Regions from separate parts of the Homo sapiens genome. Here region 1 is linked to region 2. Evidence: fine-mapped expression QTL. A gene starts in region 2. The other region holds a variant in brackets. All regions are shown on one strand. Distances are from middle to middle.

Evidence for each region.
Region 1: its variant is fine-mapped to the expression of FBXW8 in tibial artery (GTEx, PIP above 0.99).

Annotation. Positions count from the first base shown.
Region 1 is chr12:116,963,975-116,969,508 of GRCh38, forward strand. FBXW8 (F-box and WD repeat domain containing 8) reads left to right here. Exons shown (of 11, transcript NM_153348.3): 5 at 723-880. Among named protein-coding and RNA genes, the nearest start is that of FBXW8, 56 kb to the left of the region's middle. The variant A/G (reference allele first, on the strand shown) is at 2,887.
Region 2 is chr12:116,908,610-116,913,609 of GRCh38, forward strand. FBXW8 (F-box and WD repeat domain containing 8) reads left to right here and starts at 2,341. Exons shown (of 11, transcript NM_153348.3): 1 at 2,341-2,746. The coding sequence starts at 2,429. It also overlaps the pseudogene RPL36P15. RefSeq lists silencers at 2,169-2,388, 2,549-2,808.

The sequences.
Region 1 (5,534 bases), 56 kb after region 2:
TGTCATCCTGGGGGCCTCAAGTCTGAGTAGGTTCGGCCTGGCCTGGCTTTGATGGAAGCAGTCATTTGTTGGAGTGGCACTAGTCATAGGAGAGAGTGAGTACTTCTATTTTCTAAGTGGGCAAAACCGGGCAGTGTCGCGCATTCAGCAAGAGCTTTTCATGAGCAGGCAGCACTGTCTGGCTGCTAAAGGCAAGATTTAATTGTTTCAGCAAATCAATTAGTCTTCAGGGACTTTAATCAGTCAAATCTGATGCATGGATGAGGTATTAGAAAGCCTGTGCCTGTGAGACCATTAGTTCTGAGTATCCCTGCAGCATCTCTCTCTGTCTTTCCTGTGAGTGAGTGTGTGCGTTTGTGGGTAAATAGTGGGGCTTATACAAATTTCTGCAAGTGATCCCTGTAGTGGGAGAGCTTGCAGGAGCAGATTGTTGTAATAGTGTAAAAGGAAAAGCAAGGAGATCTTGCTACCCATGTCTTATTATTGTTTTCTCATTTGAAATTGTCACCATTGTGCTGTGAGAATGTGAAGCGTGTTCACAGCCTTCTGTCATCTAGTTGACATTTTCTCCTGTTGGAGTCACTCATCTAAACAGTGCCTCAGCAGTGGCTCTACACCACCCGATTCTTACTTGTCTGTTGTTGTAAGGCTCTGTGCATTTTCCCCACCATAGCCCTGCTCTTCAATCTCCTTTTGGAACCAAGTGTGTCGTTCTCTTCCAGATATACATCAGGGGATGTGAGAGTGTGGGACACCCGCACCTGGGACTACGTAGCCCCCTTCCTGGAATCAGAGGACGAGGAGGATGAGCCTGGAATGCAGCCAAATGTCTCCTTTGTGAGGATAAACAGCTCGTTGGCAGTAGCAGCTTATGAGGATGGTAAGTAACCACAACCCTCCTCCCTATTAAGGAAAAAAAAAAGCTTTACAAAAATTAAGCAGCTGTGGCCGGCTCCCCCCTGTAATCCCTCCATATGTACACGTGGGCACACACACATGTTCACACACATACACTCACTCTTGCTTTTATTTGAAGAAGTTGGCCAACAACCGTCAATGCATTAGTAGGCATTGGAACACAGCACCCATTAAAACTGGTGTTTAATTCCTACTGGAACTGTCAGGCTGGGCGCTAGTGCCAGACACAAGGCTGGCCAAAGCATCTTAAGCAAATAACTTGTTTGATGTAAAATATTAAATATACTTGGCCTACTTTTCCTTTAGCCTCTGCTCAGCCCAAAGGGAATAGTGAAAAGGGGATAGACATAGGTCATCTATTGATAAATGTAGTTATAGAAAAATAAAAGTCAGTGCCTACCTTTTCCTGTCACTTAATATACCATACCAGATAATTGGTAATAATATGTTTTCTCTTTGACATTGATAGAATTCTTTTTGTACATGAACAACTATGGATTTTTGGAACTAGGTACGAATAGTCTAAAGTTAGCTTTATCTATGCAAAGAAACTCTTGACAGCGTATAACTACTAGAAATGGTCATTTCAATGGCCATGATATCCAGTATGCCCACCTGTCATGCTCCTATCCTCCGTTATGTTGTGAAGTGTTGAATCTCCACAAGCTTCATGTCCCCACTTGCCCAAAAGTTGGGACCACAGCATATTTCAGAATGTTAAGTGTTCATGTCATGGCACCACTGCAAATCTTCAGAGTCAGTGTGACATTAGCAGTTGGCTCAGAGGAACAAAACTAAAGTAGCTAATGGGGAATTTTATACCCATGTGCTGTTTAAAAATAAAAATTAGGGCTGAGATCTTACATACATACCTATATATATTTGAGACAGGGTCTCACTTTTTTGCCCTGGCTAGAGTGCAGTGGCACTATCTCAGTTCACTGCATCCTCAACCTCCCGGGATCCAGTGATCCTCCCACCTCAGTCTCCTGAGTAGCTGGGACTACAGGCGCATGCCACCATGCCCAGCTAATTTTTTTTTTTTTTTTTTTAAGAGATGGAGTTTTGCCGTGTTGTCCAGACTGGTCTTGAACTCCTGAGCTCAAACTATCCACCTGCTTCAGCCTCCCAAAGTGCTAGCATTATAGGCATAAGCCACTGCACCTGGCCTTGAAAATATTTTTATATTTTATATAATTACTTTAGCAACGTGATGTTGGTTTGATGTTAGTAGACACTACTGATGGATTTCCTTTTCAGCCTATAGAAATTCAGCTGAGCTGTTTCTGTGGTATAATTAATATTTCATATGTTTATTGAGACCCTGGATAGATACCATAAGAGCAGCTTGAACATGTTTGCTACTTTCCAAATTATCAATGAGTTTTGTTTCCAAAATACCTATGCAAAGATTGCAGTACTTTTAAGTTAGAATCATATAGTTTTAGGATCATCTAATAGCCTTTCCCTACCATTCACACACACGAACATGCACACACATATTCTTCTACAGATGGGGAAACAGAGGTGCAAAGAAGCCAGGTAGGTTGAAGTCAGCAGTGAATCCAGAACTGTGATTGTGTCTCCAGGGCCGTGCTGCGGTGGTCGTGCTGTTTGTGGAATCCTGAACATAAAGACTCTTGTAGAAATGTGCGCCCAATTGATTTGCAGCCCATGTCTCACATCTCGTGAGCTTGAAAATACAGCTTGAGGTGATGTGCAGGGGTGCTGCTGCTGGTTTTATATTGTGAGAATTGTCTTCATTGCCCTCATCCCCTGTTGTTGCACAGAAATGTTGGGAAACAATGTAGGCATGATAAAGAATCTACTTTTTTTTTTTGAGACAGGGTTTTGCTGTGCCACCCAGGCTGGAGTGCAGTGGCACCATCTCGGCTCACTGCAACCTCTGCCTCCCGGGTTCAAGTGATTCTCCTTCCTGCCTCAGCCTCCCGAGTAGCTGGGATTATG[A/G]GTGCCCACCACAACAACCAACTAATTTTTGTATTTTTACTAGAGACGGGGTTTCACCATGTTGGCCAGGCTAAGAATCTGCTTTCTTTGGTAAAATGCTTCGCAAGTGATTGCCAAAATGTATTTTAAATTCTTTTTTTTTTTAAAGTCATAGTTAGAATTCAAACAGAGCAAAAATGTATATAAAATGACAAAGAAAAAGTATGCAAAAAGAAGTCGAGGTATTCCTCCCTGTCCCACTTCCAGGCCCTCTCGCATTTTACTCGTGGGGGGTCCTGCTCTGTATACTTCTCTGCACCTTTTTTTTTTTTTTTAATAACCTAATGGCACATCTTGGTGATCTTCCGTGTTCACACTTACAGGGTAAACCTTATTCTTTTTAATGCCTGTGTAGTACTGCATTATGTGGCTGTACCATCATTTATTTATTAGGGTCCTCATTGATACACATTTGAGTTGTTCATTTTTGTTATTGAAAACAGTGCTGCAAGCAATATACTTGAACAAATGCCAGGATGGACTTGTCCAAGGGTGGCCCTGGGGTGAGGTGCTAGTGATTGCTAGGTTGGAGGCTATGGCTGCAGGCTTTGGCTGCTTTAGGCTTTGATAACTATTGCCAAATTGCCCTCCAAAAAGGTTTCACCAGTTTATAGTGTCACCAAAAGTATGTGAGAGTGACTGACAGGTAAAAATGGCATTTTATTGTCTTTGTTTGCCTTTCTTTAATTACATGTGGACATCTTTTCTTTGTGTGTTGTTAGCTGTTTCTATTTCTTTCTCTGCAAATTGTTTGTTCCTGTCTTTCTTCATTTTTCTTTTGGGTTGTCATCTTTTCTGGTTGAAAAGAAAGCTTGGGAAATAATCCTTGCCATATGTGTTTCCGATATTTTTTCCGTAAGTCACTTATTCTTTTTTGTTTGTTTTGAGATAGAGTCTGGCTTTGTCATCCAGACTGGAGTGCAGTGGTGCGATCTCGACTCACTACAACCTCCGTCTCCTGGGGTCAGGCGATTCTCCTGCCTCAGCCTCCTGAGTAGCTGGGATTACAGGCGCCTGCCACCACGCCCAGCTAATTTTTTATATTTTTAGTAGAGCTGGGCTTTCACCATGTTGGTCAGGCTGGTCTCGAACTCCTGACCTCAAGTGATCTGCCTGTCTTGGCCCCCACAAAGTGCTGGGATTACAGGCTTGAGCCACCGCGCCTGGCTTGTCATTTATTCTTTAATGGACTTGTTTTCTAGAAGGTACTTGGTATGTGTGAACAATGTTAATTTTTTAATCTAAAAGTGAGTGGGGTTATTTTGTAATTTAATGTTTTTGATTACTACATTTTTAGGGTTCAAAGATCAAAATAATATAAAGTTATATATTGAGAAATCTTGCTGCCACCCACTTTTGTCTGCTCCATTCTGAAGTAACCATATTTTTTACTTTCTTGTATATCCTTGTATTTTAGTATTACAAGTACAAGAAAATATGAGTGTGTATATTCTTATTGCCCCCTTTTTAAAAAACAAAAGATAGCATACTATTTACTTTACATGATTCCACACCTTGGCTTTTTTCTCTAAATAGCATATCTTAAAAGGGAGTGCATGTCTGTGTAGAGAGAGTACCCCGTTTGCACACCTGAATGGTAATTCCATTGTGTATAAGCACTTTGGTTTATTGAAGGACAGTTGTGTTGTGTTTGCCGTTACAGTGTTGTAGTGAAAAACCTTGTAAAGATGACATTTCACACAAGTGCAAGGAGGATTGTTTTCTGGGTTACAGGGTAAATGCAAGTGGGGTTTTACTATTTTATGCTCTTACCAGCAAGCCATGAGAGTGTGCCCGCTTCCTCACAGTTTTGCCAACAAAGTATGTTTCCAGCTTTTGGGTATTCATCAGTTTGAGAAGAAATGGTCACCAAGTGTAGTTTTAATTTACATTTCTCTTAATGTGAGAAAGGTTAAATTAAAAAAAAAATGTGTACCTGCTACTTGTAGTTCTTTCTTTTTCTTCTGTTACTGTTATGGCTTATTTTTTATATTTTTATCTTGACAAGTTCGTCTTGGATTAGCATGCAGTATGGTTCCAAGTACATCTTTTTTCCAGCATCTCTTCTCGGAGAGCCCATTTCTACCTAACTGGTTTGAGGTGCTGCCTTTATAAGCTTTTAGCTATGAAATTCACTTTGTATCTGGGTCTGTTTCTGAACTTTGTGCTCTGTTTCAGTTGGTCTGTCTGGCAGCTTAAATTTACATCAAGCTTGTCAGTCTTGTCCTTTGGGGTTTCACGTCATGGTTGGGAAGATGATTACTCAACGCCTGGGTAAAATCTATAAGTGCTTCCAAGGCTGCAGTGTTTCCATTGAAATCTTTGATTCGTTTCAAGTTCATTTTGGTATTAAGGGCTCTTCCTTTTTTAGAGCCCTTGTGTTTCCCTGCTCCCCTCTCATGCTGAGCTTGTTTCATTGGTCTGATTCGGGTTGTTACTGTTTCTGTGATAAACAACAACTTCTATTCTTTCCCCAGACGTCAGGTGGCGTTACCTTTGGTCCCCCTTCAGTTTAACAGATCGACACTATGATATTTACACTAACATTTTCGTGAATAGCTACTTTTGGGCAAAGACAGATTCAAATAAACCCACATTTTTATATTGCT
Region 2 (5,000 bases):
AATGGCTGCCAAGAAGAACTGAGACTTCTTCCCCTTCTGTGTATAATAAAACCTTTACGGAAAAAAAAGAGAATGCTTACTTGTATTGGATGCTTATGTTCCATCTTGCATCACTTCACTCATCTTTTACCTTAGTCACTGCTGTAGCAACTGGCTTTGTGCACGTGTAACCTGACAGTCGTTCCTGTTAGCTGCACAGTGTACCTCCTGCTTTTTGCCCCAGAGCATCTCTGCTGCCTTGGTACGGAACATCCATGATAATCCGTTTACTTATACCCAATCTAGAAGTGGGAGGTTGTTAAAGCTCCTTGGCTTAGCCTTTCTCTAGTAGGGGATGAGAGTCACTGGACAAATGCTTTCCTCTTCTGGCTCTTATCTCTTGGGAGGACAATTCTGAGCTGTGTTCTAAGGCTCCTTAGAAGGTGCTAATGGAATGAGCCTAAATTGCCACAGTAGGACCAACTCAGAGATGCTCTTTCTTTTTTTTGTTTTTTTGAGACAGAGTCTCGCACTGTCGCCCAAGCTGGAGTGTAGTGGTGTGAATATACGCCCAACCATATACTCTAATTTTCTACAGTGAAGGTTGTCCAAGCCTGGTTTCCCACAGTAAGCAAGCCTGAGCCCTGGGTTTGTAGGCAGCTAGTTTATTTACAGAAGTGATTCTAGAGAAGAGGCCTGAGAGACTAAGAAGAGTTAGACAAGGAATAAGGGACAGTTAATTGCAAGAGCATCTTTGAGCCTGGAGTGGTGGCTCACACCTGTAACCCCAGCACTTTGGGAGGCTGAGGTGGGTGGATCACTTGAGGTCAGGAGTTCAAGACTAGTCTGGCCAACATGGTGAAACCCTATCTCTACTAAAAATACAAAAACTTAGCCAGGTGTGGTGGCGGGCACCTGTAGTCCTAGCTACTCAGGAGGCTGAGGCAGGAGAATGGCGTGAACCCGGGAGGCGGAGCTTCCAGCGAGCCGAGATCGCGCCACTGCACTCCAGCCTGGGCAACAGAGCGAGACTCCGTCTCAAAAACAAAACAAACCAAACAAACAAACAAACAAAAAACCATTTATTGAGCATGTATTAATCACCAGTCTCAAAGCTAAGAGTTGCCAATCTAGAAGGGAAGGGATATATATATATACATAAAAATAAAATTACAAATTGTGTTATGTATTATGATGAGAAGTACAGGATGCTGTGAGAATGAGTAACAGGGATACCTGATGTTTCTTGAGTGGAGGTTGGAAGATTAAGTGAAATGTGAGTTGAGATATGAAAGATGTGTAGGAGTTAACCAAGTCAAGGTGGGGGGAAAAGTTCCCTGCTGAGGGAATATCAGGTGCAAAGAAAACATTTTTAAGTGGAACGCCATCGTATGTCATTTTCTTTCCCATCTTAAAGCCCTTGGATTTCCTTCTGGAAATCTCTCTCCTAAGATCTGACCTTCCCTTGGCTGGTTTCTCTTTCAGATTTTTAAAAAAAAATTTTTATTTCCACAGGTTATTGGGAACAGGTGGTATTTGGTTACATGAGTAAGTTCTTTAGTGGTGATTTGTGAGATTTTGGTGCACGCATCACCCGAGCAGTATACACTGAACCCAAGTTATAGTCTTTTATCCCTCCCCACCTTCCCACCCTCCCCTCGTCCCCCTCCCCTGTTCCAAAGTCCCATAAGTCATTCTTATGCTTTTGCATCCTCGTAGCTTAGCTCCCACTTATATGTGAGAACATACGATGTTTGGTTTTCCATTCCTGAGTTACTTCACTTAGAATAATAGTCTCCAATCCCATCCAGGTTGCTACGAATGCCATGAATTCATTCCTTTTTTATGGCTGAGTAGTATTCCACCATATGTATATATCAGTTTCTTTATCCACCTGTTGATTCTCTTTTAGATTTTAATTTAAATAACATCTTAAACAGACTTTCACTATCAATCCTTACTCCCCTTACCTTACCTTATTTTGTTTTCTTCCTAATACCTATCACTGATTTAAATGTTCATATTTCTTTGTTTAAAGTCTCCCTACTTAAACGCATGCTCCAAGACGTCAGAGTTTTTGTTTTGTTTTACAGATTTAAATGCTGAATTCTTGGTGCCTGGCATATAGTAGTTGCTGAATGAATGTTTGTTGAATGAAGGAACAATGCTTGGCGCAAAGTCAGAGCTTAGCAAAAGTGATAGGCAGCAGAGCTGACGGGCTGAGGGGCAGCTGCGTAAACCTCTGCTTTGGGCGCCACAAGCCACAAGCCGGACCACCACGTGCGTACAGGGGCAGCGCCGGGGGCGTGGCGGGGGCGTGGACGCCCACCCGGAACCCTAGAGCGGCGGCGGCAGCGGCTTCCGGCCGCGGCGGACACTTCCCTGGGCGGGACTGTCTCGTGGCACCCGGTGGAACCGAGGAGAACGTGGAGCGCCGGGAGCGGCGAATATGGACGACTACAGCCTGGATGAGTTCCGTCGGCGCTGGCAGGAGGAGCTGGCGCAGGCCCAGGCGCCGAAGAAGCGGCGACGGCCCGAGGCTGCCGAGAGGCGGGCTCGGCGGCCGGAGGTGGGCTCCGGGCGCGGCGAACAGGCCTCGGGGGACCCGGCGCTGGCCCAGCGTCTCCTGGAGGGCGCGGGGAGGCCCCCGGCGGCGCGGGCGACTCGGGCCGAGGGGCAGGACGTAGCGAGCCGCTCACGTTCTCCTCTGGCCCGCGAGGGCGCCGGGGGCGGGGAGCAGCTGGTGGACCAGCTCATCCGCGACCTGGTGAGTGGCCGTCGCCTCCCCCCCGCCCATGCCTGCGCCGGCCCCCGCCCCCAGGACAAACCCCTGCAGTGATTTGGAGAGTAACTGTGTGCCACTAGTTGCCCGAGAAAATGAGTAGACGCACAAACACCAATGTTTGTGCTTGCATAGGGGTCTTTCTGGAAGCAGCACTTCCCAACCAGGGCGATTTTGTTCCCCCAGATGTGGCAGTGTCTGCAGACATTTTTGGGTGCCTCATCGGGGTGTGTATGTGTGCATGTTACTGGGCATCTAGTGGGTAGAGGCCAGAGATGCTCCTGAACATCCTACAGTGTACAGGACACCACGCACAAAAAAATTATCCAGGACAAAATATCAGTAAGTGTGGGGTTGAGAAATCCTGCTCTTGAAGGCTACCTAAACTTTGAACAAAGGTTGCCTTTGAAAAGGAGGACCCAGATGATGGATAGGAAGTAATTTTACCTTTGTATACTGTTTGCACTATTTAATTTTTGTAACCGTGCACGTATTCAAAAAAATTATCTCAGAAAAAAAGGAAGAAGAGGAGGAAGAATCTCCTGGGCACTTTCATTAGGATAGAGTTTCTTATCTTTTTGTGGGGCGTGGATACCTTGGAGAATCTGGAGGAAGCTGGGGACCCTGTGTCCGTTAAAAATAATCCCCTTCAGAAAGTTGGGAAAATCAAGAACACCTGAAATGCATCCGTGGCTCCCAGGTTAAGAGGACAAGGCTCCAGGTTCTAATGGTTTGATTTAAATTAGGCCCAAAGGAAGTCCCTACAGCTTTACAATTGGGAACCCACTTTTTTTTTTCCTGTTTTTTTTTTTTTTTCTTTCTTTCTTTCTTTTCTGAGACAGGGTCTTGCTCTGTTGCCCAGGCTAGAGTGTACTGTTGCTCTCCCGGCCCACTGCAGCCTCAAACTGCCTGGCTCAAGCCATCCTCTTCCCTCAGCATCCCGCGTAGCTGGGACTACACGCATGCGCCACCACACTCAGCTAATTTTTTAAATTTTTTGGTAGAGACAAGGTCTCCCTGTATTGCCCAGTCTGGTCTCAAACTCCTGGGCCCAAGTGATCCTCCCAATTGAGAATCATTCTTTTTTTTTTTTTTTTTTTTTGAGACGGAGTCTCGCTCGCTCTGTCGCCCAGGCTGGAGTTGCAGTGGCGCGATCTCGGCTCACTGCAAGTTCCGCCTCCTAGGTTCACGCCATTCTCCTGCCTCAGCCTCCCCAGTAGCTGGGACTAACAGGCGCCCACCACCACGCCCGGCTAATTTCTTTTTGTATTTTTAGTAGAGATGGGGTTTCACTGTGTTAGCCAGGATGGTCTCGATCTCCTGACCTCGTGATCCGCCCGCCTCGGCCTCCCTAAGTGCTGGGATTACAGGCGTGAGCCACCGCGCCCGGCCGAGAATAATTCTTTTAAGTGGCAAGCTGTTTCAAGAAATAATGGCCTATTATTTTATGTAATATGTAGTTTACTCAAATAGCATTAATAGCTACTATTTGAGTTTTTACCAAGTGTTTAGTCCTGTGCTCTGCCCTAATTCGAATATAACAATCCTGTGAGGTAGATTTTAACTCTCCTTTTACAAATGAAGAAACTCAGAGATTCTCTGTAACTTGCCCAGCATTACCCCACTGATAGATTCTGGGGATTGAATTTGGATCCAGGTCTTTTCAACTCCAAGTTTCACCACGTGAACTTGAGTTGGCATAAGAATCACTTGAGGCTTGGTTATAATATAGGTTCTGGGCCCTCCCCAGACCTGCTAACTCCATCACCAGGGAAGGGGCCCTGAAATCTGATGACTGGTATGATCAGGCAAGTTTAAGACATTATACTCTACTGTATAGCCTCCTTTGGTTTAAGGTCCTGATTCTCAAGGCTTTCCATTTGTAACACCTTAGAGGTATAGGCATTGATGCCAAAAATAGTAAAGAAGCAAATCATGTACAGTTGACCTTTGAACAACCTGGGGGGTTAGGAGAACTGACCTCCTTGCAGTCAAAAATCTGTGTATAACTTTTGACTCTCCCAAAACTTAACTACGAATAGCCTACTGTTGACCAGAAGCCTTATAGATAAGTCAGTTAACACATATTTTGTATCTTCTGTGTGTTATATACTGTAGCATTATAATAAAGTAAGCTAGAGGAGAAAGTGTCATTAAGAAAATTATAAGAGAAAATGTATTTACTATTCATTAAGTGAAAGTGGCTCATCACAAAGGCCATCATTCTCATTGCCTTCAT